2 separate regions of the Homo sapiens genome follow, and region 2 is linked to region 1. Evidence: fine-mapped expression QTL. A gene starts in region 1. The other region holds a variant in brackets. All regions are shown on one strand. Distances are between the middles of the regions. Region 1 holds the start of AIMP1 (aminoacyl tRNA synthetase complex interacting multifunctional protein 1). Region 2 overlaps GIMD1 (GIMAP family P-loop NTPase domain containing 1).

The links. PIP is the estimated chance that this variant, and not a neighbour inherited with it, causes the effect.
Region 2: its variant is fine-mapped to the expression of AIMP1 in whole blood (TOPMed, PIP above 0.99).

Annotation. Positions count from the first base shown.
Region 1 is chr4:106,311,799-106,324,654 of GRCh38, reverse strand. AIMP1 (aminoacyl tRNA synthetase complex interacting multifunctional protein 1) reads right to left here and starts at 8,105. Exons shown (of 7, transcript NM_001142416.2): 1 at 8,061-8,105. It overlaps TBCK (TBC1 domain containing kinase), which reads left to right and starts at 8,446. Exons shown (of 26, transcript NM_001163435.3): 1 at 8,446-8,724. RefSeq lists enhancers at 7,897-8,146, 8,637-8,696, 8,777-8,866.
Region 2 is chr4:106,348,276-106,365,570 of GRCh38, reverse strand. It overlaps GIMD1 (GIMAP family P-loop NTPase domain containing 1), which reads left to right. Exons shown (of 3, transcript NM_001195138.2): 3 at 7,128-8,179. The coding sequence ends at 7,388. AIMP1 (aminoacyl tRNA synthetase complex interacting multifunctional protein 1) reads right to left here. Exons shown (of 7, transcript NM_001142416.2): 7 at 16,115-17,295. Among named protein-coding and RNA genes, the nearest start is that of GIMD1, 12 kb to the left of the region's middle. The variant C/T (reference allele first, on the strand shown) is at 10,348.

The DNA of each region.
Region 1 (12,856 bases):
GAGTATTACATCTGTGTTCCAAAGTAAAGAGTTGCTGATTTCATTCCTTTTATATTTCTGTATACTGGATCCTTCTACTGTGTATTCACTTAGGTACAATTTTCAAGAAGAAAACGTCAATTAGGAAAGATAAATATTAAAAGAAAAAATCAACAATTAAGAAAATATTAATCATATGCTTGTTCAGATATAATGTCAGTATATACCGTTGTCTTTATTTTAAAAATTAGAATTTTAGTTTTATAATAAATTCAGAGAAATTTAAAAAAATACTATCAAGGTACAGAAAAATGTATGTAAGCAAACATTCTGAGATTAATTCACCATGTTAAAATTTAAACTGCCACATACTAAGAAAAATAATCACACTGACAATGGAGAGGTTAATCATTAGTAATACTATGAACTGTTCTTTTCTACCTGATTTAACAAGAATTTATAATTCAAGGTATAACAATGATACAAGTATTGCTGAAATAATTCTAACTTTAAATAAATGAAGCAGTACTCAATATTAATGGTGAAATTTTGAATAAAAACTAGATAATAGACACGTAACAGATTGTTTGAAAATTTCAAATTATTATATAATACCAATCCTATATAAAAAATATTCTGAAAAGCCACAATACACTGGCTGGTATTTATTTTTGAGGTGACTGTCTAGATCTGTTGGCTCATTTTTGAGCATCAGTCTATACTTAAATCTACTTGTTTCATATTAGCTGATACTAGTTTTCTAGTTTTTCTCTTAATTTTGAAATTTGAATAAGATGATTTGAGCCATATCTTTTCAAAATGTATTTTTCTAAAATGCACCAATTCATTCATTTTAGTATTATTCATCAAATATGTCTTTGCTAGAGATGTAAAACTTGCCAATTCTGCCTAATCAGATACTCATTATTGTTTGTGATAGCTACATTTTACCTATTGAGTATATTTCATCATTACTTATGTTAGACTAAAATAAAAAGACATCAAAAACTAAAGAAATGCTGTACTCAGGATACTAAAATTCAGAAGAGCATAGTTTTTTTTTTTTTTTTACTTTAACTTTCTTCATATATCCATTTCTATTAAGATATTTTCTCTACAATTCTGGCTTTGCAAACGTTTAAGTAACAACATGGTATTCTGTGTTCATTTTGGTAAAAATAGCAGAGTTTAAAGGTGGTATCTTCATTTGAATTTTTGTGCTCTTTTGGTCTGTATTTTTCTAAACTGTTAAAATAATAGTCCATAAAGAATAATGCTCATAAATAAGCCAACAGTTCTAGACAGTCCTTCAAAAATAAATACCCACCAAGTTGCTGAAAAATCAAAAAAAGAAACTCATGTTCTGACTCATACAGAAACATATAAAAAATCTTCTAAGAATAACAGTAATTTTGAAAATAGAGATAATAAATCCTAGCCTAAGAGAAAAAAATACAATTTTACTGAGTTGATAAATCTGTTAACTATTTGCAAAATATAAGTGGAATAGTTAGTTACATAAAATATGACTTTTATAATACATATTGAAGAACAAGCATAAGTTTAGGAAAGAGAATGTCATGTTTCAAAATACAGAAATACAAATGAACTAAACACTAAATACACATATGCAACTACTAAAAGGAAACAATGTGATAAAAAGAAGTGATAAAACTTTTTTTTTTTTTTTTTGAGACAGAGTCTTCCTTTTTCACCCAGGCTGGGGTGCAGTGGCACGATCTTGGCTCACTGCAACCTCCGTCTCCTGGGTTCAAGCGATTCTCCTGCCTTAGCCTCCCAAATAGCCGGGATTACAGGTGCCTGCCACCTGACTAATTTTTGAATTTTTAGTAGAGATGGGGTTTCACCATGTTGGCCAGGCTGGTCTCGAAATCCTGACCTCCCTCAACTGATCTGCCCACCTCGGCTTCCCAAGGTGCTGGGATTACAGGTGTGAGCCATTGCACTGGCGCCCAGACTCTACTTCTTCTCCAGTCCTAGATAACTGGGTATCTGGAAATATTATTCATGATGCCAATGTTAAAAAGTCTCATCTTGTGAAATCTAAAAATATTTCACTTCTAGTTACGTCTGTGTGTTAACAGAACTGTGCTCAAGTGCTAAAAGCCATTTGCTGTCTTTAGAACAGAAGCTCTGGAAACAGGTTTTCTAATACTTGTTGATTAATTATCATTTAAATTTTTTAAAAATATAGGTTGGATGCATAAGTTTATGTTAATGTTTTCTAGTAACATGCAGATAATGATCACTAGCACTGGCAGAGGAACATGGGTATATATACCCTTGGGCTTGCTTATATATACTTAGACTGTGTGACCTTGGTAAAGTTATCTAAATTTTCTATACTTTTTTTTTTTAATTTTTTTTAGTATTTATTGATCATTCTTGGGTGTTTCTTGGAGAGGGGGATTTGGGAGGGTCATAGGACAATAGTGGAGGGAAGGTCAGCAGATAAACATATGAACAAAGGTCTCTGGTTTTCCTAGGCAGAGGGCCCTGCCGCCTTCTGCAGTGTTTGTCCCTGGGTACTTGAGATTAGGGAGTGGTGATAACTCTTAAGGAGCATGCTGCCTTCAAGCATCTGTTTAACAAAGCACATCTTGCACCGCCCTTAATCCATTTAACCCTTAGTGGACACAGCACGTTTCAGAGAGCACGGGCCATTTAACCCTTAGCGGACACAGCACATGTTTCAGAGAGCAGGGGCCATTTAACCCTTAGTGGACACAGCACATGTTTCAGAGAGCACGGGGTTGGGGGTAAGGTTATAGATTAACAGCATCCCAAGGCAGAAGAATTTTTCTTAGTACAGAACAAAATGGAGTCTCCTATGTCTACTTCTTTCCACACAGACACAGTAACAATCTGATCTCTCTTTCTTTTCCCCACATTTCCCCCTTTTCTATTCGACAAAACTGCCATCGTCATCATGGCCCGTTCTCAATGAGCTGTTGGGTACACCTCCCAGACGGGGTGGCGGCCGGGCAGAGGGGCTCCTCACTTCCCAGATGGGGCGGCCGGGCAGAGGCGCCCTCCACCTCCCAGACGGGGCGCCGGCCGGGCGGGGGCTGCCCCCCACCTCCCGGACGGGGCCGCTGCCGGGCGGAAAGCGGAAACGCTCCTCACTTCCCAGACGGGGCGGCTGCCGGGCGGAGGGGCTCCTCACTTCTCAGACCGGGCAGCCGGTCAGAGACGCTCCTCACCTCCCAGACGGGGTGGCGGCGGGGCAGAGACACTCCTCAGTTCCCAGACAGGGTCGCGGCCGGGCAGAGGCGCTCTTCACATCTCAGACGGGGCGACGGGGCAGAGATGCTCCCCACATCCCAGATGATGGGCGGCTGGGCAGAGACGCTCCTCACTTCCTAGACAGGATGACGGCCGGGAAGAGGTGCTCCTCACTTCCCAGACTGGGCGGCCGGGCAGAGGGGCTCCTCACATCCCCGACGATGGGCGGCCAGGCAAAGACGCTCCTCACTTCCTAGACGGGGTGGCGGCCGGGCAGAGGCTGCAATCTCGGCACTTTGGGAGGCCAAGGCAGGCGGCTGGGAGGTGGAGGTTGTAGCGAGCCAAGATCACGCCACTGCACTCCAGCATGGGCAACATTGAGCACTGAGTGAGCGAGACTCCGTCTGCAATCCCGGCACCTCAGGACGCCGAGGCTGGCAGATCACTCGCGGTCAGGAGCTGGAGACCAGCCCGGCCAACACGGTGAAACCCCGTCTCCACCAAAAAATACAAAAACCAGTCAGGAGTGGCGGCGCGCACCTGCAATCCCAGGAACTCGGCAGACTGAGGCAGGAGAATCAGGCAGGGAGGTTGCAGTGAGTCAAGATGGTGGCAGTACAGTCCAGCCTCGGCTCGGCATCAGAGGGAGACGGTGCGGAGAGGGAGAGGGAGAGGGAGAGGGCTATACTTTTCTTAATTTAAAAAATTACTTGTACCTGATTTCACCTCCTACTTCCTTGTCACCTCCTTTCAGGGCTCCTTTTTTTTTTAATCTGTCCCATTAATGATGCTGTTCTTCAGGGTTTGGTCTTAATCACTAATCTTTTCTAGGGATCACAAACTAGCCTGACAAAGTTCAGGGATAGCTTTCTTTTCCAGGGCTAACAGTGTTGGAAATAACTGATGTGAATGTCTTTAAGTAAGACAGACAGACACTTTACTACTCCCTGTTGTCTGCCATTTATATTACCTACCAGGCTCCTAAAATAAGTTCATGACCCCAACTTTACACTCCCTGATTTTGTGTCATGTGCTGGGTTTATAGTAGAGAACAAAAATAAACATGTTCTTTGAACTAACTAAGCTTTCAGACAAATGGGGGAAACACAGTTGAAGACATTTTTAAAATAATGTTACGCTTAGGGCACAGTGATAGTTTAACAACAATACTGCTTAAAGCTCAAACAAATCTTTTACCATTCAACCCAGTGCTCATTTCATTAATCTCTATGCTAATTACTCCCCTGTGATTTTTCAATTTTACATTGAGTATAAGTCAACCTTCAAAATTTTAAATCCTCAGAGTTTCTAATATGTATAAAGTTTCTCATAGATGATAATAACAACTACATATATTTGTAGAACATGCGCTATGGCTGGCTAAATGCTTTACACAAGTCAATTTCGAATACTGTAATAATCTCCATTATACAGAGAAGAAAACTTGAATTAAAATTAATTTGCCTCATGTAATACATAGTAAACGAGGATTGAAACTCAGGTCTGTCTGATGCTGCAGTTAGCTCTTTTAATGCTCTAGCTATAATTTCTCTAAAGGATATAATTACGAAGCATTTTCCAATATATTTAATGACAGAATCCTAACACAGGAACAGCTATTAACATTTATTTGAACTAGTATTCTCTAAAACAGTTTAGGAAATGCTAGTTTAAGTCTCTGGACTAAAATGTAAAAAAATTAAGACTGTGAGATTAAAATAGATATAAGAATGACATGCACAGTAATTGAAAATATAAAACATTTATGAAGAGAGAAGCACAGAAAACTGTAGACCAAGTATGTTAATTGTGTTTGGTGAGGATCAAGACCTTTTCTTTTTCCTTTACTAAATTAAAATGGTAATAATGCATTTTTTAGGACAAAAGCTTTTGAAACATATTATCTAAATCATTCTGTCCCTTCACATTAATTTTGTCCTTCTCAATGTTAATTATCATACTTCATCAAACCTAAAAAGCCATTAATCATACGATGCCTCTAATGCAGAATCCCAAATACTGTACATGAATTTATAGTACATCTTAATCATTAAAATACACACACAAAAGATGATTTTTGAGATTCTGAGATCTTCACTATCATTTTTGTTTACTGAGCAATTTCCTCAGTAGTCCTCCCCACCCACACCATCTAAATTGCCTGCAATCTTTTTGAAAAAGCAAAATCTCTGCCCCACGATGACAACATTGGGAATCAAACATAAGTAAGTTACTACTTTGAAATCAAAGTTTTACAGGCAGACTTTTAATTTTAGAATTCTTATGCTATATAGGAACGCTACACAAATTTGAAAGTGTCTCTACTCAAAACCTCTAATTTCCCTATTTCAGAATTACAGTAGGTAAAAATTTACATTTTTGTTGGAAGCTTTAAATACTATACAAGAAATCTAAAATGCCATCAATTGTAAAATGGCTTCAATCCCAAGAAGCTCTATTATTTTATGTACATTATGAAAAAAAACACTATTGAATCAACTGACCCAATGCTTTCTTATTACTTAGACACATCCTATATTATTTATTGACAGACTTCTTTTAAATTTAACCCTGGATTTTTATCTTGTATCACCCTTTGTTTCCCCACATACACAGTAACTTTTCATTCTAATGCTAATCATAATCTTCTAAATGATCTTTAAAAGGGAAATTACACTCAACAACTATATGCCAATAGTGCATATATAACTCAACTGAAATAATGACAAGATTAAGTTATGACTAAGTGGGTGTAAGTGTGGGCAATGACAAATATCTCACAACTGCCAATTCATCTACAGTGATTTAAAGATGTCAACAACTTAAAAATACATCCCTATTTCAGAGATGTTAAGTAAGAGAAAAATGTGTATCTCAGAATTGATGGAATATAGTAATTTTAATCATTTTCTTCCTTTCTTCTCCTCCCTTCATTCCTATTCTTGCCTTCCAACTTCTTTCCCTGATTTGCTACACAATCTAATTACTGGATATGTAAAAATATTATAGTATACATAAAATACCCCACACTGAAAGACCGTCCTTATTATAGTGTAAAGCAATGTGGTACCTTTTAGCACTAGGTGAAAATTCCTGCTAGGATTTAAATCATATGTGTCAAAAGTCAGAATTTAAAGAAGAAAATTAAATACACTGAGAACAATGCATCTGAAGACACTCAAAATATGTAAGCGCAGCAACCAGCAGTAATTCCCTAGGTCTTTTATCAACCTTTGCCAAAACCTATAAAAAGAATATCTAAAATTGCTTTTTTATGGAAGTTCCTATTTCCCTTACCAGACAGCCTGCTTTCCCTTTACTGATGAGGACATAGGGGGTCCTGGAGGGTTTAAAGGATGGCTATAAGGAATGACTATAGGGTGGACAGCTATGAGAGGCCAGTCCATGCATTTCTAAATACCATCGTCATTAACACAAAAACTTTCCTCCCCAGTACAGAGTCCATAAAATTTAAAAAGGAGTATGCCTTGGCCTCCCATGACCCTCTTACCTCACAATAAGGCCATCTTTTACCTGGTTAAGATTTGCAGACTAGACCCATTACATACCTTGTCATTAAATACCTATAATATACCCTAACCTTTGCAATCTTGACAGATGTGATTTCCATTTTATAGACAGATCCAGGAAAATTACATGACTTATCTGAATCCCTTCAAGTACCACATAGCAAAGCCATGATTTTAACTTGTGTTTGCCACTCTGAAACTCACACTGGAATTCATTTTTCAAGTGTCCTCCAAAGCCTAATTAAATAAAATTAACCCTGTCATCTATAATACTCTTACATATCCAAATTAAGTGCATCAAGAATATAACTGGCCATTTCTTACCACCCATAGTCAAACCACCATTATGCTTCCTCTGGATTATTGCAAAACTCTTCTTATTGGTCTCCTTTCTCCTACCACGTCCTCCTCTGTGTATTTTCCTTAAAGAGTGACCCTCTTAAAAGGAAGTCAGAGCCCATCACTCTACTGCTCAAAACGCTCCAAAGTCCTATTTCATTTAGAATAAAAGTTAGATGTCCTCAAGATCTTCATGACCTGCTCGCCTTGATTTAATCTCCAGTGAAGGACTAAACCCTTCACTCAACTCTGCCCTACAGGCCTCCTTGCTATTCTAGCACGTTTCTGCTTCATGACCTCTGCAATGGCTGGTCCCTCTGTCTGACTGCACTTTCCCAAGATATTCGCGTGGTTAAATCTCCCACTTCTGTCAGCCCTTTACTTAAAAGTCATCTTTTCAGCAAGACCTTCCTGTGTCACTTTATACCCTTCTTCCCTGCTTTACGTTTCTCTTCAGGACTATCACGACCTAAAATACAGTATGTTTCTAATTACTTTGCTTAGTATGTGCCTTCCTCTCTAAAATGTGAGCTACAAGTAGACACAGATTTCCGTCTGTTTTGTTCACTGCTGTTCACCTAATGCCTAGAACGGTGTCTGGAATAGAGTGGGCGCTTAATAACTATTCGCTCAATGAATAAATTCCTGTCTTCACCCTCCTCTCCCCCAAAGCACCTAAGTCCTTTGACACACACATTCACATAACAGTAAATACGCTTAGGGATCGATATTTTTCTGTAGCATTCTTAACTTAGGCCTGCATCCCATTTCTCAAACGTGGCTCCTTTAGAAGGAAGTCTCAAACTCTTTCCTGTTTCCTTAGGCCAGGGCTGGTCCTGCTGCGAACGGACTACCCATTAGCAGCGCAGGCCAGGTCCTCTCTCCTGGAGGCAAGTTAGAGAAGGAAGACCCCTACGATCGCAATCGGCGATCCCCGAGTGAGTGACCCGCCACGACGTCACTCACATGAAGCGGAGGACCACGGGTTCCGAGACAGCCACAGCAGGAAGCATGTAGGTCCAGCCACCCGCGTACTATAGCAGTGAGAAAGGACCCAATGAGGTGTCCTTGCTGAAAGCCTGAGTGTTCTACAGATTCAACCCTCAATTCTTTCTTCCTCTTCCTGTGCTCAGTCCCATTAACCTGCCATACCACGCTCCTCGTCTTCCATTCCCTCACCCAGTATTTTCAATCGACCCCCCCCGTCCCCCCGCACCTCTTTCTCTCTCGCTATATGTCCTTTCGTGGCCAGTTTGGGCAAGGGGAAGGACACCACAAGTCGGGGTCTTTCCTCAGCGTTGGGTCGCGGTGGCTGTGAGGGCGGAAGAAAAGGCCAGGCTGAGGGGAGGGTAGAGGGTGAAAAGCTCGGATCTGTGTTTGGGGAAGGCCAGGCTTGCGCTCCTCGCCGGGTTCCGCGAAGGTTAACCTTGGCTGACTTGGCTCGCGAGCAAAGGGCAGCGTCTGAGCTCCCGGCGTTCCAGGAGTGGCCTCTTTTGTAGGAGCACCTGAAATGCAGCGTCTGGTGCACTAAGCCGTAGCGGCAGCAGCAGCCACAGCGACAGCGCTGGGGCCCTGTGTAGAAGCTCCATCCCCCTTGTCTTTGTGCTTGCCTGCGTCCCCAGACTCAGAGGCAGGTATTTGGGTAATCCAGTTTTCCGTGTCGTAGTGGGTGGGGTCTGTGGGAGGTAGAGGACTATCAGGAGCAGTGAGTGGCCCCGCATGTCTTCAGAATAGATAGAGAACCGAGCTGTGGAGCCGCTTGCTGATAGGTACTGTCTCCATCCCTAGCTACAGCCCGCCTTTCCTGTAAATCAGGTTCACCTGAGTCGTTTGGGAACCGTAGGCTTAGTAATCGCTCTGTCACTGCCTCAAAGGAAGGCTAAAGGAGGTTAGAGAATCTAGAATCCGCCCCTCCATTACTCACCTTGGAGGCAGAATTTTGCTTTGGTTTGTTTCTGGCCCTCGAGGTTTAGTCAGTCGTCAAAGTGTAACACCCCCTTGAGCAGTAGGAGAAAGTGAAGCAGAGGAAGGAAGTTACTTGAGGATTGTCAGTGGCTGCTTTTCAAGGATCCCTGTCCTGGTTTCTATCTATTTGAGACAAAAATAACCTCTTGAGAGAATGTATATATAAAATAAATGAATTAGTATCATTTTCCTGTTGAAGAAATGTGAAATTTTATTCATGATAAAATCGGCGTCTTTTGCCCTATTTTTTACTTTCTTTCCCCATTCGAGTCGTTTAAAACTCTAAGTTCTTTGAGGGCACAGAGTCTGACTTGTTCATTATCCTTTGCCCACCAGCTGGAAAAACAACTGACTTAAAATAGGGGCTTCAAAATATTTGTTGAATGAATGAATTTTCAAGCCCAACTGCTTGCACTGCTGTTTCCCTCATCTAATCTCTCATCTCTACGTTTTTTTTCCCCCGGTAGTTTTCTTCCACTCACGAGGTGTAAGTGAATGTATGTGTGTGTATTTTTGTGTGTGAGCCTTTTTATGTACAACCATTTAAGAGGTAGTGGAAAAAGAACACTGATTATGCTAATTAGTGTTTTATCTTTTTCGATCATTGTGTTTTATTTGGTTATTTTATTTTCAGCTATGTGATGATAAAGACATCTGATTGAAAATAAAATGGTCGGGCGCGGTGGCTCACGCCTGTAGTCCTAGCACTTTGGGAGGTCGAGGCGGGTGGATCACCTGAGGTCAGGAGTTCAAGACCAGCCTGGCCAGGATGGTGAAACCCCGTCTCTACTAAAAATACAAAAATTAGCCGGGCGTGGTGGCGGGCGCCTGTAATCCCAGCCACTCTGGAGGCTGAGGCACAGAATCGCTTGAACCCGGGAGGTGGAAGGATGCAGTGAGCCGAGATCATGCCACTGCACTCCAGCCTTGATGACAGAGTGAGACTCTGTCTCAAAAAAAAAAAAAAAAAAAAAAAAAATCAAGTAGTATAGCGTAGTAGGATTGAATAATAAAGTGCAACTGTCTCACCTGTCCTACTCTCAGTACTGTTCTTCAAAGATAACCACTTTTAACCTTTTCTAATTTTAGGTCTGTAGGTTAAATAATAAGTTAAACTGTTAATTCTTTTTGTTGACTTCTTGAGATAGCCCTAAGTTGAACTGCTAATTCTTTTTCCGTTGACTTCTAGAAATAGCCCACACCATTCACAATCTCCTCTGAATTTTGGAAGAGTCATAATCATAATTTTTAGTTTTTGTATTGGTTACTTTATAATTCAAAATAATATACGTAAACTACTTTTTTCACATCAACTTTTGAAAATATATTTGACTCCTTGTTTGGTAAAACGAGAAAAGTAGTGATTCTACCTTTTTCTTTATCACTTCAGAAACTACATTTATGCCCACTTTCTCTTAGCTGGACATTTACTTGTACATTGTCAAAGTTAGTAATATATTTCTTAACTATAACATTTGCGCTTTATTCACGTGCCAAAAACCAATAAAAAAAATAAAATGTTTACAGTATTATGGCTTTATAGTTGTTACTTAGAGCAAGTCCAAGCTGTATGCTCTGATATGTTTTTTTCCCCAGAGTTTTAACTTCATGATCCCTGTGCCATACTAAGGAGATTATTTATGATATCAAGGTCAAATGGGTTTTTATTTCTTTCCTGCCAAGGGCAAAATATGCTGTAGTTGAGCATGCTTTATATTTTGGAGTATGTAATACATAGTTTTTAACCGTCCCCACTTTCTTAATTGCCTTTCTGCTTTCTCCTGGGGAATAGGTAGGTGGATGTGCTTTCTTCACTGAATCTTCTCATTCTTTGTATGATGCACATAGAAGCAAGCTTCCATTCCTCTGTTTGAAGATTTTCCCCTTAAAGCCCAATGGCTTTCTGTTTAATTTGAACAGATTGCATTCTAGTCCTTTTGTATTGCTCCTATCCTGGGCTTATATTCATTCTTGGGTAAATAACATTGTTTCTTAGCCCCTCATCTTCTGTTATTGGGCTTCCCCCTATTTCCCTGGAATATATCCTAAGGAAACTTGCTCACAAAAGGCAAGTGAAAGGTAATTTTATTTTTTAATGTTCGTATAGCTGTAAATTATAATTTGCTCTTATGACTGATAATTTGGCTGTATATAGAATCAAAAGTATTTTCCTTCAACTCTCAATCCTTCCATGTCTTCTAACTTTTTTTTTTTCCTTTTTTTTGAGCTGGAGTCTCACTGTGTTGCTCAGTCTGGTCTGAAACTCCTGACCTCACGTGATCCTCCCACCTCAGCCTCTCAAGTATCTGGGATCACAGGCACAAGCCACTGCACCAGGCTCTCTTCTGACTTTCATTATTGCTGATGAGAATGCCAGTCTCACTTTAACTTGTTGATAGCAGAATCAGTTTTTTCTGTCTGAAATGTTTACAATTTTCTAGTTACGTTTGATGCTTTGAAAATGTATAGCAGTGTTTATCTTCTCATAAGCTGTTTTATTTTGTGTGAGATAAAATTTGATACATATTAAAACACATTGATTTTAAGTGGCCAATTTAATGAGTTTTGATGCATGTACTCATCCATAAAACCACTACCACCACAATCGAGATAGAGAATATTTCTACCACTACAGAAAGTTCCTCTGTTTCTCTGCTTATTCAACCCCTCTCCCCCATCTACAGTACTATCTTCTGATTTTTTTATTAATACTATAGTTTAGAACTATAGTTCTGGAATTACATTTAAATGGAGTCATACAGTATGAACTCTTTTGTGTCTGCTTCTTTCATAAACTTTATGTTTTTGAGTATATCCATGTTTTGACATGTTTGTTCCATTTTTGTTAAATAGAATTTCATGGTACAAATATGTTAATTGATTCACTTATGGGACATTTGCATTGCTTCTGGTTTTTAGCTATTAAGAGTACAGTTCCTATGAACATACTCATACAGTGTTTTTTTTTATGGACAAATGTTTTCATTTTTCTTGGTTAAAGAGTGGAATTTCTGAGTCATAAGTTAGGGATATTTTTAACTTTAGAAAAGTTTTCCAAATATTTTCCAAAATTCTTTTGCCATTTTACGCTCCCACTAGCAATATAGCAAAGCTCCACTTCCACATTCTCAACACTTGTTACTGCCAGTCATTTAAATTTTAGCCATTGTAGAAGTTAAAGGTTTGTCATTGTGATTTTCATTTGCATTTCCCCCAATTAATGATATTAAGAACTTTTTCATGTGCTTATTATTTTCATGCCTTGTGTGAAAATATGTTTGTGACTTTTACCTATTTATGTATTGGCTTGTTTTATTATTGAATTGTGGTATTTCTTTATAGACTCCGAATACAGGTCAATTATATACAGACACACATATGTTTGATTTTAAAAGGTCATATATATACATAATGTCATATGTATATACAGACAGATGTAAATAATATTTCCCTTTAACTCGAATTTTTATTTTCTCAGGGGTGCCTTTGGATATGCAGATGTTTTTAATTTTGATGAAGTCTACTTTGTCAAAATTGTCTTTTGTGGCTAGTGCTTTGTTCTATTGTGTCTAAGAAATCTTTGCCTAGCCTAAGGTTGTAAAGATATTCGCTTATGTTTTCAATTAGAAGACTAACAGTTTTACCTTTTACGCTTAAGCCTATGTTCCATCTTAGATTTTTGTGGATGTATCAGTAGAAGTTGAGGTTATTATTTTTTTATATGAATATCTTTTTCCAGCACCATTTGTAAAAAGGACTTTCCTTTTCCTGTTGAACTCTTTTGCTTTTGTTGAGAA
Region 2 (17,295 bases), 39 kb before region 1:
TACCCTTCTTTTGGTTCAGTCTCAGCTCATACTGACATAGGCCCTGTTACAGCCCAGAAAGATAGTTACTTGGTTTTAATGAAGATTTTTTCCTTTAACTAGAAAAGATACTTCTACGTGACAGATACACGCATTGTTTTTCAGTAACTGTGCATGTTTCTAAAAATGAAAAAAAAAAACCCAGCCATATGTATAATCACAAGAAACTAGCAGAAAAATCAGGGTGACAGGAGCATAAAAAATGCTCATCATGTAACTCCTGAAAAACCAAGGACCTGCTATACAAAAGTAAGGAAGAATAGAAGATGATTGCAATTAAGAAACAGTATGGGATCTAAGAAAGCCCACAAGCCTCCTCCAAATTATGAAAGCCTGTATTTCAAGCAATGTTTCTGGTAGAAATCAAGTGGTGGGAAGCCTGCATCCATGACACCAGTATAATCTTTAGACAGTTCTTAAAAATTCATTTAAAGCTATTATTAAGTAAACATTTAGATGAGGCTATAGATGGATATAATTCAGTAAATGCAGTAAACACATAAACAACTCTTTTTCAAAAGCTACCCTGACTCTTTCCATACGTCTCAATATTTCCCTACCATGAACCTATGCTGAGCCCAAAAGGTTATTTTAAATATCATACATTTTGAAAATAGGTTTTAATAGTTTTAGCATATGGGACAATAATGTCATCTGTGAGTCTTTTTTATATATGTGAACTCAATTCATACATGTCTTTGGTCGTTTAAAACAATATTTGGCATATAGTCTTCTCTTACAGATGCCTTCCAAATCAGTATGCAATTCAGGAACTGAAGGCAGCAAGGAGATGAGCTAGGGCAAAGCTCAGATCCCAAATATTTCTTTCTGAAATAAATAACTTCCGTCTCCCAAGAAAATCAGCAGCCAAGGTTTAATAATCTTGAGTGGCCTATGATCCCTGGGAGCACTGCAGACCTATTCCAGGGTTCTGCTACGGTCTTTGGTTGATGGTCACTTAAGCACAGGCTGGCTGTTTGTGATCTTCCTGAAGGTGCCTCAGATACTGGTGGCAGCCATCTGTATGTGCTCACAGATTGGAAGCTGTTGCAGAGTGTCTGAATATTCAACAGGACCAGCAGCTGTTAGGAAGGAGCAAGAAGCTGTTAGGTCCTCAGGTTTCAGGCACACTATGGATTTCTTTTTCTTCCTGGCTGATGCAAAATGGAGTATGGAGTATCTGCCTTCTTTCTTTTACCCCTTTTCAGGGGCACTGACTAGTACTGTAGAAGGAGCCTACCAAGCCAGAGTCAGAGAAGTAGCTTCTTCTTTCCCATGCCTCCCGGTTGTCTCTTTAAATATCTTCCCCAATTTGTACTCTAATATTTTGCAGAGGAGTTATATTCTACTGGCTGTGACGATGGAAACATTTTCCCCAAATGATCCCTTTTTCTTTTTGTTAGGCCTTTATTAATTTACAGTAAAATGAAAGAGATATCAGTGAGTCATGTCCCCAAAATCAAGAAATAGAAGGAAGAATTTATTCAAATATTATCTGGAATCTCATTTGAATGTTTATAAACCCACAAATAATGAATCAGAGAAGATATAATATAGTCACCTCAAGGAAAGAGCTGGCATACAGCCAAGCTGCAGTAGGAATTGTACCTAGGTATTGCCTATGGTCCATTTCCGCCCCCCCCCCCCCATTATGGTATTCTGTATTATTACTGCGTACAAGCAAGTTTCAAGCATGTACTTTTATTTCATCATCAACAACCGAGCTGTTGATGTTGCAGACGAATGTGTTTACAAAAAGCTCGGAAAAGCTAATTCAGAGCCTGAAAATACTAAATGAAGATTGTGGGCTTAGTTGTTAGAATTTAGTTAAAAAAACAAGCCTAATTACTTCATAGGTGTATGACTATAAATGTTACTAAAACTTTCTTGGTTTCAATTCCTTACTTGTAATGTGGAGATAATTTTATGTATGTTAAGAGTTCTGAGCATTATATTTAATAAATACATCATGCTCAGCATTGTGCCTACTTACAGTAGGTCACAGAAAATGGTAAAGTATTACTAGTATTGTTGTTTTTATTGTTATGATCACTACTGAGATTGTGAATGAGTACTCATTCAAATGAACTACTGGATATGGGCAAGATAGCATAGAGATTACGAGATGGGTTCTAAAGTATTCAAGTCTTAGCTACTTATTTGCTTTGTGATCTCGGGCAAGTAACTTCTGTAAACTTCATTGGTAAATTGAGAAAGACAGTAGTGTCTGCTTCATTGGGTTACTTGTGGGATTAATGCCCTTTCAACGGTAAATGATATAGCTTAGGCACAGGCACGTGGCAAGTGCACAGCAAATAGCTCTGGCCATTATTATTTCATTGTTAGTATTTGTCTTATCCTAAAATTAGGAAATAGTGTTTTTTAGGTTTATCCTGGTAGACTTATGAAGAAAATAAGAGTAAAATCAAATTTACGTGGCCCTGATTTATAAACATAAGAAGTAACTTTTTTATTAATTTAGAAAAAAAATCTGGAAAAATCTTCACTGGCTTAGTATGGTTAAATTGAAGAGCCCCAATTTAGTGGGAAAGATGGGGGACCTTGGTTCCAGGTCCAAGCCTGTCAATAATCAGCCATATGACTTTGGCCAAGTCATTTAACACCGTAAGTCCTCAATACCTCATCTGTAAAATGAGGCAGTTTATAAGATGATCTCTGAGGTTGAATATTCTCTGGATCTGGCCTAATGAGAAATTATCATTCAGCTTTGGCTCTCTGAAAAGGAAAATGTAATGTTTTAATTGGGGTGAGAGTAAGGGAATAGCATAAAGTATAAAAAAATGGTCCTCATTGTCCTCCTGTTCCGTGATAATTTTTTTCTCAGTTGATGTAATAGTTGGCTTTTTGTTTGTTTGTTTCACCCTAAAAAGTCCAGATGCTATGATTTCATCAACCACAAACAAATGGGGCAGGGCTGGTGAGGTCCTGGGAAAATGAACATAATTCCTGGATAACAAAGTTTATATCCTAACCAGTAGTCCCAAAAGGACTAAATGGACTCATACCCATTAGCACTCAAACCAAACAATTCATGATTGATCATAAAATTTTCATCTAGCTTAGTACTATATTTAAATTATTAACACCAGATAACTTACATTAACTTATCTTGCTTTTGGATTTTTATGTGAGGTATCAATCAACTGTAATGATTCTTTCTCTGGGTCCATAGAGAACATGTTTGGCCACTAACGTGATGACTATTCAGCAAGCAACACTACTTTCAAATATTCAACTATTTTCTGGCCAAAATCGACTTAAAGATTTTAAGCTAAATCAACCACTCTCTTCTGTTTTTGGCAGTAATTCAAAAGTGCAATTTCTCTCACAGTTTAAGGTATGAGCATCCTTTCATAAATAAATGTGTAAAAACTTCCCAGTGGCTGAACACATGGACTTTTAAGTGGCATGGCACTTACAAATCTATTATCCTTAGGTGATTTAACTCACGTTCTCTGAATGAGATTGTGGTTTAAAGTATGGGAAATGTCTGGTGGAGACCAAAAGGGAACATGTTAATGTTACAATACAGAAAAACAGGAACAAAAGAAATACTATGAAAGTTAAACCATTTACTTCATTAAGTACTAACCTAGAAAGAAAATAATTCTGTGTTACGATATATAACTCAAGAAAGGATTGTTTGTGCCAAATAGTTTATTTAGCATGCACATTTATTGTAGCAATACTGTATTTCAAAAATATTTAAGGAGGCAAATACCTTATTCATTAAGTCACTGGGGCTCAAAAATATTTAATAACAAGTATGATCTACACATCAGCCAATACATATCTAAGGGTAAGTTTAGGATGGCTCTCAAGGAGTTAAGAGCAGTAGCTATTTAATAATTTGTATGAAAACATTTTGATATCTGACAATCAGTATGACCATATTCATAGCGTACTTGGTGAATATCAGGTCTGGCTCTAAATTTGATAATCTTTCAGAGATAAGAGTGATCAAAGATCAATAGCTGTACTTGTTTAGAAATAAAATCTCAATGCTGTACAATCTCAATCATGCTTGATTACATTAATTACCTTGTTAATTCCTATGTATTTTTTAAGAATCTGGTGACTGCATCATCACATGCAAGACATCTTGTCTGGTCTTTCCTTTTTACCCTTACTTCCCACCTCCACCCCAAAATGGGCAAAATGATCACCTTTATAATGCTAACATAATTTCTATCACACTTGCAATTGAAACAAATTCAAAGTATTTCTTTCCTGTCTGTCTCCCTTCCCAAGTTAATTTAGTACACAAAAATCTCCACTAACTGTAAACAGAATATGTCTGTCTTGTTCCACACCTGTCCCTACCATGTAGAGCATGCCTAGAACAAAGTAGACCCTCAATAAATATTTGCAGAAGGAATAAATCATCTAAAATGCTTTATAAAATTCAGATTCCAGGCTCCAGCCCTAATGGTTCTGATGCATTTTTAGAAAGCCTCCCAGGTGATTCTGATGCAAATGATCCAGGGATTGCTGTATTCCCAGAGGCCAGATCTAATATACTTAGTACTTTATTAATTTTTTTAGCCACTTGCATTAGTTTGCTAGGGCTCCTGTAACAAAGTACCACAACCTGGGTGGCATAAACAGCAGGTATTTACTGTCTTTCAGTTCTGGAGGCTAGAAGTCTGAAATGAAGGTGTTGTAAGGGTTGTCTCCTTCTGATAGCTGTGAGAGAAGATCTGTTCCAGGCTTCTTTCTTTGGCTTGTAGATGGCTATCTTCACGTACGCATGGCACTCTCCCGGGACTTGCGTCTTTGCCCAAATTTCCCTTTTTTTATAAGGACACCAATCATACTAGACAGGGACTCACCCTAATGACCTTAGCTTAAATAATTATATTTGCAATGACCCTATTTCCAAATAAGATCACATCCGGAAGAACTGGGGATCGGAATTTCAACACATGAGTTTGGCGGAGGATGCAATTCAACCCATAACATCACTGCTCATTTACTTTGCAACTCTGTGACTCCTCTTCCAGCAGAGACCTGTTAACAATATACAGAATATACAACAAACTCTAAAGAGGTCTGCTAATTTTGCTATGTTACCATTAGGCAAAATGGGATGCTGACATTATATGGATACTAATTTTTTAAAAATTTATTTTTTAAAGTTTATAATCTATTACAGTAATTATTCCCTAATATACTGATTGTGAAACTTTAAGCAGGGTATTTTTAGAAGGAATAGAAATATGCAGTTATTCTATGGTGGGTGTACATAGAAAAATTTTGAACACATATGAAGAAAAAGTTTGGGCCTATTCCTTGAAAGAGTCCCTCTGAATAGAAAATAGTCCAGACTACAGGCAAATTCATGATGATAAACTGCAAAAAAAAGAAGCTTTACAAAGATTAATTATACTTCAAAACCAAAACCTCAAAAGAAATAAATAGAACCCTAAGACTTCTATTTGAGATGACAATGAGGGTCTAAATTCCAAATTAATTTAACAGATGTTTACTGAAAGTTTACAATGTGCTAAAAGCTTTGATTGATATGGAAAGACATGAATCTTGCCTTCAAAGAGTTCACTATGAAGTTGTAGAAATTGATGTATAAATAAATGAATCTGATAAAAGCCAGACTGTATCAGTTGTAATTGGTGACCATGATTGTGATGTTTCTAATTTTAAATGTTTTGTCCCGTAGTTCTCACGAGTATTTTCATGTTAGATTTACCTATCCAGATTCCTTCTTTCCTTACTCCTGCTTGCCTTCCTTCCTTCCTTTCTCCTTTCTTCCTTTTCTGTTTTCTTTCTTATTTCCTTCTTCTTTTTTCTTTGTTTTCAATTTTTCCATATTATAAATTCTAATCCTGTATTTTTTAGGTACATTGAAAATGATTTCCCAGACTGTCTTTCAATATTTTCAATAATTTTTTAAAACCAGAGTTTGTACTAATACATATAACTCAAAGTCTTTATAAGTCAGTTTGCCAATATCATAATGGAGATAATAATAGTATCTCCCACAAATAATTGCATTAAGCTTCAAAAGAGGTAACGCATGTAAAGTGCTTAGCATAATATCTGGCACTAAATGTTAGTTTTTCTCCTTTCTTTCTTTCTTCTGATTATTAGAGGTCTTGGGTGTTTCTTATTATGTTTATTCCTAGGCATTTTGTATTTTTCTTGCCATAAACTAGTAGTAGCTTTGGAAATATTTTGGTAATAGGAGTGTTCGGAATGGAGGTAATGTTATTTTGTTGTCACATTGTGATTTCATGTAACTTTAGAAATATCCCAAAAAGTTCAAGGGTTATTTCTAGATGCCTTTTATATTACATGAACAATTTGCCACATGCTGTTACTTCTGCTTTATATCAGCTTATATTCACTAATCAAACAAGAATTTATTACATAACCAACTTCCACATATTACTAAACAAAGGAATGCCAGTCTTCAATGTTTTTCAACCACATTAGAGGAAGTCATCAGATAAATTGGGTTCCATTCTAAGCATGTGAAGTCAAGAAGATGAGACTCACAGTTATAATATTTTGTGGTTCGTCCAAATCACCAAATGTATTTTTATCTGAGCTTTTCCATTACATGTCACCTGATTAATCAATAGATTCTTAACAGATTATGTAATTTTATATCTTTAGTAGATGCTTTTAATGATAATGATAAAAGTAAAAGATAAAACAATTCCCTTGACTAAGGTCCTCCGACTTAAATTCAGTGGCTTTAATGGACTCAGGTAGTCAGACAAGTATAAATGATTACTGAATGTTGAGAAATCTATGCAGCAATGATAATATGCAGTTTTGAGGTTGTGTATATATCAATTATCATAGTAAAATAAAAGAGAGAATTTAATTCTCTGTTTAATCCTGCCTTTTTCAGAAAGTCAAGCCTTTTCCCTCCATTTACTTAAAATACTTGACCCTGTCTTCATTTCCTACATTGTATATCAGCTTTCAGAAACATAATAATATGGATCTGCTGGCTATCTATATTGGACCGTAATAAATCCTTTGCTCATTTTTGAGGAATATAGTTCAAGTTCAATAGTTATCTAACTTCTCTCTTTCAGGAACTTCTTGGACATGCTTGGATGAATTACACAGCCATTCTTTTTACCCATGCAGAAAAAATAGAAGAGGCTGGGCTTACTGAAGATAAATATTTACATGAGGCCTCTGATACCCTGAAAACGCTGCTAAATTCTATTCAGCACAAATACGTTTTCCAGTACAAAAAAGGAAAATCACTCAATGAACAAAGAATGAAAATCTTAGAAAGAATCATGGAATTTATAAAAGAGAACTGTTACCAAGTTCTTACATTTAAATAAAATTTAGGTGAAAGGAAAGGAGCATTGGGTATTGGAGTCAGAAACCTAGCTACAAAGAATGCCTTTATTGACATGAATGTGGACCATAAGTATTCTGATATGCTGCTGGTGAGAGTGTACATTGGTATAACCACTTTGGAAAACTAGAAGTTAAAAAGAACATCAATGATTCAAGATTTCTAATGCAAATCCCATGACATAGCAATTACACTCCTAAGTGTATACCCAACATAAATGTGTACATTTGTGTACTAGAAGACATGTATGCACAATAATGTTCATGGAACTACTATTCAAAAGCTAAACATACAGACTATTCAAATGTCTATTAATATTAGAATGGTTAAGTAAATTGTGGTATATTCCCACAGTGGGATATTAGAATAAGTAATTAGAATAAGCAAGCTCAACTATATGTAACGATACCAGTGAATTGCCCAAACATAATGTTGAAAAATAAGCCAGACATAAAAGAGTACATACTCCATGATTCCATGTGCAGAAAGTTCAAAAACAGTAAAACAAATGTAATCTAAACTACTCTGATGGTAGAAGTGCTGGAAATTGGGAGAGTGGTTAACCTTGGGGAGGAGATTGTGAGTGAAAGGTTACACTTGATGTGGCTTCTGAGATTCTGGTCATGTTCTTTTGTTCTCTTGATTTGGAGCCTGGTTTCACAGGATTTGTTCACTTTGTGAAAATGCAACAACAAACACTTGTGATTTATAAACTACTTGTATATGCTATATTTAAATAAAAGTTAAAAATAATTAGTTATTATCCATTAAAAAGGAACTAGCTCCACTGCTTACTTGATGCCAGAAAAGAAAAATTGTTTAAACTTGTCAGAGTCTGTTTCCTTCTTTGGAATACCTACTCATAGTTATTGTAATGATTAAATGCCATGGCACATGGTAGTTGCTTAAAATATGTTAATTTTCTTTTCCACTTCCTTGTAACCTGTGGTTTCTATTTCAGTTTGGAAACATTTGGTAAAAACTCAGAGCAAGCCCTTTAGCAAAAATGAGTATAACAATTGTGATAATTGACTATGAATAAAGCCTTCACTAAAGACCTTCTACCTTTGAAGGTTGGCCACTATGGTTTAGTGGAGAGCTTCAGGATGGTCCCAATGGTAGCAGTGAAAATTGAAGGAAAATAATTCCAATCAGTGATAAGAGTGAAGTCCACCAGCAAGTCAAAATTAGATCACTTTCATAAATATTTGTATATGAACTTCATAATTTATAAAATTTTTTCACAAAGATAGTTCCCAATTTACAGTTTGTTCTTATAAGCCGGTGGTTATTCTCCCAGAGTAGTCTTCAAAAGCCTACTTTAATGCACAATATTATGTGAACTCCAGTACACGTTTGAATTTGTGCTAGATTTATAAAATGTTTCTATAGGAAAGCATAATACAGATTCCAACTTAAAACAACATCTCACTTATTTCTTTGCATGACCTCTTGCTCCTATGCTGTGGGCCCTGGACTGAGAAGTGGGAGACTCAACAATGGGGCAGAGTTTGGAAGTGCAGTGAGAACTGACACTTGCCCCACGGGTTGTTGGGGCTTGGGACAGAGAAAGAGACTTGATGCTAAGAAGTTGAAACAATGGTGACTGGTGGAGAAAAGGAGAATGGAAAAGAATTCAGGTGTTAAGTTCTTCATATGCTTCATTTATGTGTTGTCAGTTAACTTTTCTAGAAAACAAAAACTAGTTCATTTCAGGAAGTATATATGGTGCAGAACATTAAGGATTTAAGCTCTGTGAGGCTGGCCTGATATTGATGATTAATAGAGAGGTGCTTTTAGTCAAAGAGGATTTCTGTGATATTCTTCCCTGAATTATTTATTTTTATATTTGCATATACAGTATCACCCCTTATCTGTGATTTCACTTTCTGTGGTTTCAGTTACCTGTGGTCAATTGCAATCTGGAAATATTACATAAATAAGATTTCTTAAGAGAGAGACCACATTCACATAACTTTTATTACAGTATATTGTTGTAATTGTTCTAGTTTATTTTTAGTTATTCTTGTCAATCTCCTACTGTGTCTAATTTAAAAACTAAACTTTATCACAGGAATGTACATATAGGAAAACATAGTATGTTTAGGGCTCAGTACTCTCTTTGGCTTCAGGCATCCATTAGGGCCTTGGAACATATTCCCTCTGGATAAGGTGTTCCTACTGTGTATACATGTGTGTATATACACACACAGACATTTCCACATAAATACTTAAATGTGGTAGTATTACATACTTTATTTTCTTTTAGCAGTCTTATGTGGCTTTTTTGCTTTGCCTTTACCTCTCTCCTCTTCTCCTTGCAAATCTGCCCATTACAGATAACTGATGCCAACCAAAAGCCTGGTGTCCACTGTTTCTATTTTTCTTCATGTCCAGGTAATCATCCCCACACAGCACATATAAACACATAAAAATATACAGGGCTTTTCAACTTAAAAACAAGTTTTTGTATTACACTCTTCATAATATATTTTTCTTTCACTTTAACACGGTTGTAGGACTTTCTCCTCGTTTCAGCTAAAAACTGGGTTCTTGTCACACGACCAAGAAAGATTAGGCTCATGGACACATAGAAGGGTGAGAAAAACGGAATTTATTGGGTGAAAAACGAAAAAAAGCTCAGCAAAGTGAGAGGGGTTCCTGTTAATGGGACCCCATCTCACCAATTGAATCCCAGGTTACCACCCAGTGACAGGAGAGGCTAGGCTCCTCCTCTCTGCAAACAACAAGAACTTCCCGCGGCTCCACCTTGTCCTCTCTGTGTGCAGGCCAGTTGGAGATTCTCCAGGAGCCCTTTTTACTTGGCTGTCTCAACACCACCTCATTTAAATTTTTCCAAACCTAAAATATAGCCCAAATTCATTCTTTTTAAAGGCTGCAAAACATTTCACAGTGTTTATGTAACAATTTATGCAACTGCT[C/T]CTCTGTTGATGAGCTTTCCAGTTTTCTGTCACCCAAAGCAATGCTCAAGCAACTATTCTTGTACATATATTTTTAGTTAATACTATTTTTCTGTAAGTTATATTCCCAAGAGTATATATATAAAAGTATAAAAGTATATATACATTTAATATATCTTAACAGATTCTTTGTAAAAATATTGTGATAAACTTGATTTCCAACAACGTGAGTTGTTTTCTCCCCATCAATGGGTGTTATCATCTTGAACACCTATTGTTAACAAGTTGAATAAATGTAAAACCACAGCCCACTGTTACTTTATTTGCATTTCCCAATTGGAACGATTTTCTGTATTTGGAACATTTTTGTGTAAGCATTTTGGTAATTTAGACTTAGTCTTTTATGAATTGGCTCTTCACATCCTTTGTCCTTTTGTCATTTCTTTTTCTATTGGATTACTTTTTGTTTGGCAAATTGGAAGAGCTCTATGTATGTTACAGATATTAACCCTCTGTCTGTCCTCTGAGTAACAATTGTTTTTTCAAATCTATTATTTGTCCTTTAACTTTGTATGGTAAGTTTTGCCAAACTAAATTTGTGAAATTTTTTATAGTCATATATTTCCGTGTACATGATATAGCTGGTTTTAGTTTTACTTCCTTTCAGATGAGTAACCAGTTGTATTTGTTCTATTTATAAATTCATCCTTTTACTACTTATATGGTAGGTAGGTAGCTAGATATAGAGACTGAAACGTATATCCTGGATCTATTTCTGGATTTATCCTGTATTTTTAATCCTATTCTGTTACCTATTTTATTTATATTGTTCTCAATACCAAAGTGATTTAATTGTAATAATTTTATATCATTCCTTGATATCTAGGAGGTCAAACTTGTTTTCTTTTTTCAAAATATTTTCTGGTTATACTCAGGCATTCATTCATACATGTTCTTAGATTGTTTTTCCTAAATTAAAAAAAAAATATTTTGTGTGTGTGTGTGTGTGTGTGTGTGTGTGTGTGTGTGTATGGTAAATGACACCCCATGATATTAAATCTTCCTTTACAAGGACACAGAATATTACATTATGTTTATTATTTTATATTAGTGTATTTATTGTATTTTTTCTTTTCCTTAGTTTTGCTACCTTGATAACATTGCTATTAATTCAATATTTCCCCTTGATAATTTGGAAGTTCTATTCTAATTCACCCTCATTAAAGATTATTTTCTTGCCCCTGATTTCACAATCATGTACATACTTCTCTGCTATTGCCTGATGACACAGTATGAACTATTTCCCTTACCAAGAATTTCCTACTATTAAAATAAGACCCTTACAATACTTCCATTTCCGCCCTAGTTCTCTTTCTCCTATCCTCCCCAGAAAAGTGGACTTTGGAATGCTTTTCCTTTCACCATATTACTAGATTGTGCTCAGATATTTAATTATTTAATTCAAGACTCCCCCTTGCAGGTTGTCCCTTTTGTTTCAAGAGTCCTTTCTTATAACTTACATTGCATATATCCTGGTAGTTTATCATTAGCTCTTTTAATTCAATATACAAATAGTAGAAGGTCCATATCTTACCACTGTTTTCCTTCCTCTTCATCTTTTCCCATCTTTCTGGTTAGTGTGTTTTCCCAATATACTCTGAATTCTAGTATAATATCCATGAAGCATTAAATTCTAGACATACTCTTCTGTGTACCATTATGCAATAGCAATCCTAGCTTTTCATAAGAATCAGCATAGTGGGTGTAGGGAAATATTTTGTTAGTTGGTAATGGGGATGTTGGATTATATGAATGTTAAGGCACTGAAGTGAACGTCTTGCTGCTGTTCTCCATTTGAGGCTGGTTTGTTCAGCTTTTTCTGGATGACAGTGTGTGCATATTCATTGAATAAACTCATCTGTTCTGGAGGTAATTACAACTTGCAGCTGTTGGGGGCTCAAAAGACCATATTCCAAATACGAGACCTTGGCATGCTGAGTACTTTGAACTGAAGGAGATTGGAGGAGCTTCAGAGGCAAGGTCTTTCTGTCCTTCTCCTGCCCTCCTATGTTCCACCTCTTTTTCCCCTTGAAGAAAGTCACAGAAACCAGAATTTCTTATCCTGAAAGCAAGCCATAAAACTTAGAAAGGTCACTGTCTCCCTTCTCCCTTGATGACCCTCATTCCAGAAGGGTCCTGCCCCATACCCAGGGGAAGGCATGCTACAGACACCAAGAAGAATCTGGATGGCCTTGCTGGGTTTCCCTGACCAGTCTATTACAGTTTAGCACTTTCTCTTTTATCCAATTACATTGCTATATGGCTGTCCATTCTTCAGCAATCCTAGGCACAAAATAGACAGCTTTCCCTGAGTCTTTTGGTCTTCATTTCTGAGGGCTCGTGTATCATGTAAAACTTGGATTAAATACACTTATGTTTTTCTCTTGTCTTTTGTTACAGGAGTGTCAGCTTTGACTCTTAAGATGGGTAAGGAAAGGTATCACATCTTTCTGCCCCTACGCATCTAAAGAACCATGAGACTAGGATTACTTTAAGTAAAATAAGCGATGTCCAGCAAGTTCATCTTTTGTACCCTGCCACCTTTCCTATGAGAGTCTATTATTTGCAATATTTTCTCATGTCCCTCTAGATGCCTAATCTGTATGCTGTTCTCATCCAGACACCAAAAATCTCTACTAAAGCTTAATTTGAAAGTGCTTTGAGTATTTTAGAGGATTGGAAGACAGTGTATCTGATGTTTTTGTGCAGCTAGTGTTAAAGTCTCATTAGTGCATTCAATGTGGGGTCACCAGTGATTACCCCTGCAATCTATCAGCTCTGACTCTTGCCAGGCTTGTTCCTCTAGATACATCACCTCAAACAGCATTTTCAAAGACTTTCTTTTTTAAAGCTATGTTTATCTATATTTTTTATATTAAAATTTTTCTTAGATTTTCTATTCTACTGATTTTCAGATATACTGTACTTCTTTTACATAAAGCTAATGCTTTTATGTGGCATTGCTATTTCCCAGATTCTCACTCCAACTTTGTTTTCAAAACAAATCTCTCCAAAAGTATCTGAAAAGTTTTTGTTTTTGTTTTCAATGTATGTGCAGTTTTAACACAAAAATGTTATCCTTTTATAGGAAAACTGAAAGTTTTCGAAAAAAGTTATTTCTACTGAAATCATTCCCTTTTGCTAAACTTATTGAAAGTGACTTTTAGTTTGCATTTTTCATTAATCTTTTTCAAAGAGAAATACAGTTGTGGTGTTGATTTTGGATGACTCTTGCACTGTTCTTTCCAAATTCCCCAGGTGTGAAAATTTGAGGGATTTTAAATGAACAAGTATCAGCCAAATATGCAATCTGAAAACCAAAGTGCACATATATATTGGGTGCATTTCTCTGCTGGGATGCATGATATTCTAATGAGGCAATTTACAAAAACAAATGTAAAACTTTGTCAGAGCAGCCTTAATATGAAGGTTCATCACAAAAAGGCCATTGAGGAAATAAGACATTAACAATGGCTATTTGAACAATTCTGTAGGCATTATGTAGCAATGGGAAGGGCAAGAGTAGTTAACGCTTCATTAAAAAGGATTTTTCTTTCTTGCAATTATTGGGTCTCAGGCTTGTTTCTGCTCCTGTTGCTAAGGCCAACAGCCTGCCAGATAGGAAATGATGTTGATGAAGACAAAAATCATACTTACACACGTTTTTGTACTTAAACATCTAGAGAATTGGGAATAGTGTGTGTTAGGATAGGTGGAAGTTAGAAAGGAAGGGGAAAAAAAAACCCAAATACATAAGGGTGAAAAAATACAATATACAATAATTAGTTCACACTCTGAAATTCCAGATGGCTCACTTTCACACCAACAATTATTTCATTGTTCTGGGTCCTTCCTCCAAATATTTTTATGGAGTTATACTCCTATGAGTTATCTCTGCCAAGATTTACTCAAAGGAAAAACCATAACTATACAAAGTACAATGCAAAATAATGTGAAGTGACTCTTTCTAATTCCAACAAGTTGGTACCTGAAGATGATTCAGTTTTGTACAGAGGCATATTAGCCATCAGCAACTATCCTTTTCATCATTATTGCAAATTTTGGGGTTATAAGTAGTATCACAATGGAGTATACCTATGTTTCTGTTTTAAATTATCTATCTGTATGGAACTTAGTGACATCTATCATGTTGGCTTTTGGGATGGACTGTCATTACACATTCAGTGCCCTCAATAACAGCGCACTATTCAAAGAATCATGGTATAAACCTCTTCAAAAAGGCAACTGCTACCAGCAGCAGCAGCTTGGTTTTGCCAAGTGAATTCTCCCTATATATTTGAATAGTAAAAAGAAAAAAAATTGATAAATTCTCTTCATAACCACTCCAAAGAGTGTTTAATAATCTCAACTCTCCCTTTAGAATCTCTTAAGTATTCCACTAAAGGAGCTAATCATAAACTACTCAAATTTAGGTATTTTTATGTCACTATTTTTCTCTAACATTTAAAGTAAAGCTAAACTTTTCATTCAAATAAAAGAAACCACATGACCATTTAACTAACATGTTAAGAAAGCATGATGTATTGGAGAACACAGGATCAGTAAGAACTGAAAAAAATTAAACCAGGTTTCAACTTTGTATGGGGCATTTATTTAACTTTTCTGTTGACTCTTTGGGGTAAAATGGCTGATCTACCTCAAAAGGAGCTTTTAAGGGGTGGATAAAACACATGAAAAGACTAGTTAGAAGGCAATAACAATCTTAATAGTAATTCTGTAATAAAATCCATGACAGTAGACATGTATTATTAATATATCACCCTTACATTTGTTAGAGAAGGCATGATTATTCCTTAACTAAAATTTTGGAGGGTAGAGCTTTCTCCATGAGACAGCAATTTGCAACATTATTGCCTGTTGAGCATACTAATTTGCCCTTCCTAGTTCTTTTTATTTTGCATCTTGGTGATAAAGTTGTAATTTTCATACTGCTGGATAGCACTTAGAATCAGGACTTGTGTCACTATTTATGTAGGTGAAATACATGGCTAATGTTATATACTTCTGATACTTTTATATTTTAAAAGGACGTATCATTTCTCTGAAAAATTGAGGAGGTATACTCAGGCCATTTTAATGCCCAGTTATAAGAAACAGCGAGGTGCTCCCCAACTAAGATTTTTTTTTTTTTTTTTTTTTTTTTTTTTTTTTTTTTTTTTTTTTGAGACAGGGTCTCAACTCTGTAGCCTAGTTTGGAGTGCAGTGGTGCAATCACAGCACACTGCAGCCTTGCTCTCCTGGGCTCAAAGTGATCCTCCCACCAAACACTACCCCCTATCGTTGAAATCCTTAAAAACCAGAATACATCAGATGCTGAAGTGTTATGTCCAGTTTGCCAACAATGCTATTTCTTTGTTGATTCCGTAAGAGCTCTCCCATCCCAGCAATACAAATAAAACAGAATTAAGTTTTCTGTGAAAACAAGTACTGAATAGGGCTGAATGGATAACTTGGTCAATGCTTTCATACAACTTGAAAAATCACTGATTAATTCTCCACTTCTTTCTCTCTTTAGCACTCTTTAGCATGGATTTTTACATGGTAAAGACCTGTGGGAATTATGGAGGGAAGCATGGACATTTGTTATAATTTGGTAAGGCATAATATAGTACTTGAGAAAGACAAATGTGACATTTTTGGAATGTACTCTTTTGTAGTAAGTCGTCATAAATTTCAGCACAAATGAGCTACTGATGATGCTACATTATGGGCTTTTAACAAAAGACCAATAGTTTTTATTATCTCTAGGTTTGATGAACGATTTAATCATCAGTTTAGGTTTCACTAACAAAACATTAGATAATTTGATCTGGGGTACAGTATTTCAACATTTAGTTGGGAAAATTTCAACTACCTAGGTAGTTGAAATATTATTTAAATTATATTAAAGAAATTTAATATAATTGAGAAAAATTAGAGCAAAAAACTCACAAAAGACTTTGTCACCAGAAGTATTTATTCCCAAAAGAATGACATATCTTGAGAACAAAGTAACTTTTGAAATTCATTTTGTGTTTAGGTACCAACAATTGTTAATGACGCTCAGTTCATATTTTCAGAATATCACATTGATAATGGTACTATAATATATCCTGGCCTACCAGAGTTCCATGGATTTAAATAAATAAAATTTAATTCTGCCTTTTATAACATGCAGGGTTGTTTTATGGTTGTTGAGTTTTGTGTGAGTGTGTGTATTTGTGTGTGCCTCTCCTTCTTATTGAAGGATTCAGACAGCTATAATGCTAAAATGTTTTGTGTGTGTGTGCATGTGTGTATTTTTAAAACAATGTCTATACTTCTGCCTCTATTGATGCCATTCTTTTGTTGAACCTGTAAAGGTAAGGCCCAGATTCTGAAACCTGGTTAAAGTCACTAATATTTCTCTGTGAGGCCCCTTGTTAGCTACCAGCCCTCCCCTATCCACACTCCCTATCTTGCTGACATGTGTGTAAGCCCAAATCATCAGTAATCACCTCAAGGCTGATGACCTGTAGGCTTATAATTCCTCAATTAATTTTTATTGCTCTTACAATATTTGTAAGATGAGTGAGAATAGCTATTTGACACCTTAATATATATGTATGGTATATGTTAAGTTTTAGGCTGTAATTTCTTTTAATATACTGACAGTATGATGACACATGAAAAAGCAAAATATCAGTCTGTAATAAGATATAAATTATCCTTTATTAGGTACCCAAATAATCTTTAAAAAGAAGCTAGAATTAAAAAAAAAAAGGATAGCTGCTTTTATGATCAATTTATTAGAAACTACTGTGGCAACTGTTTACAATGTGTTCATTCTTTAGACCTAGTCAAAACTTATTACTAATTATTTTGCTAAATAGAAAAACTTCAAGCCAGTAGGAAATCTCAGTTTTTTAA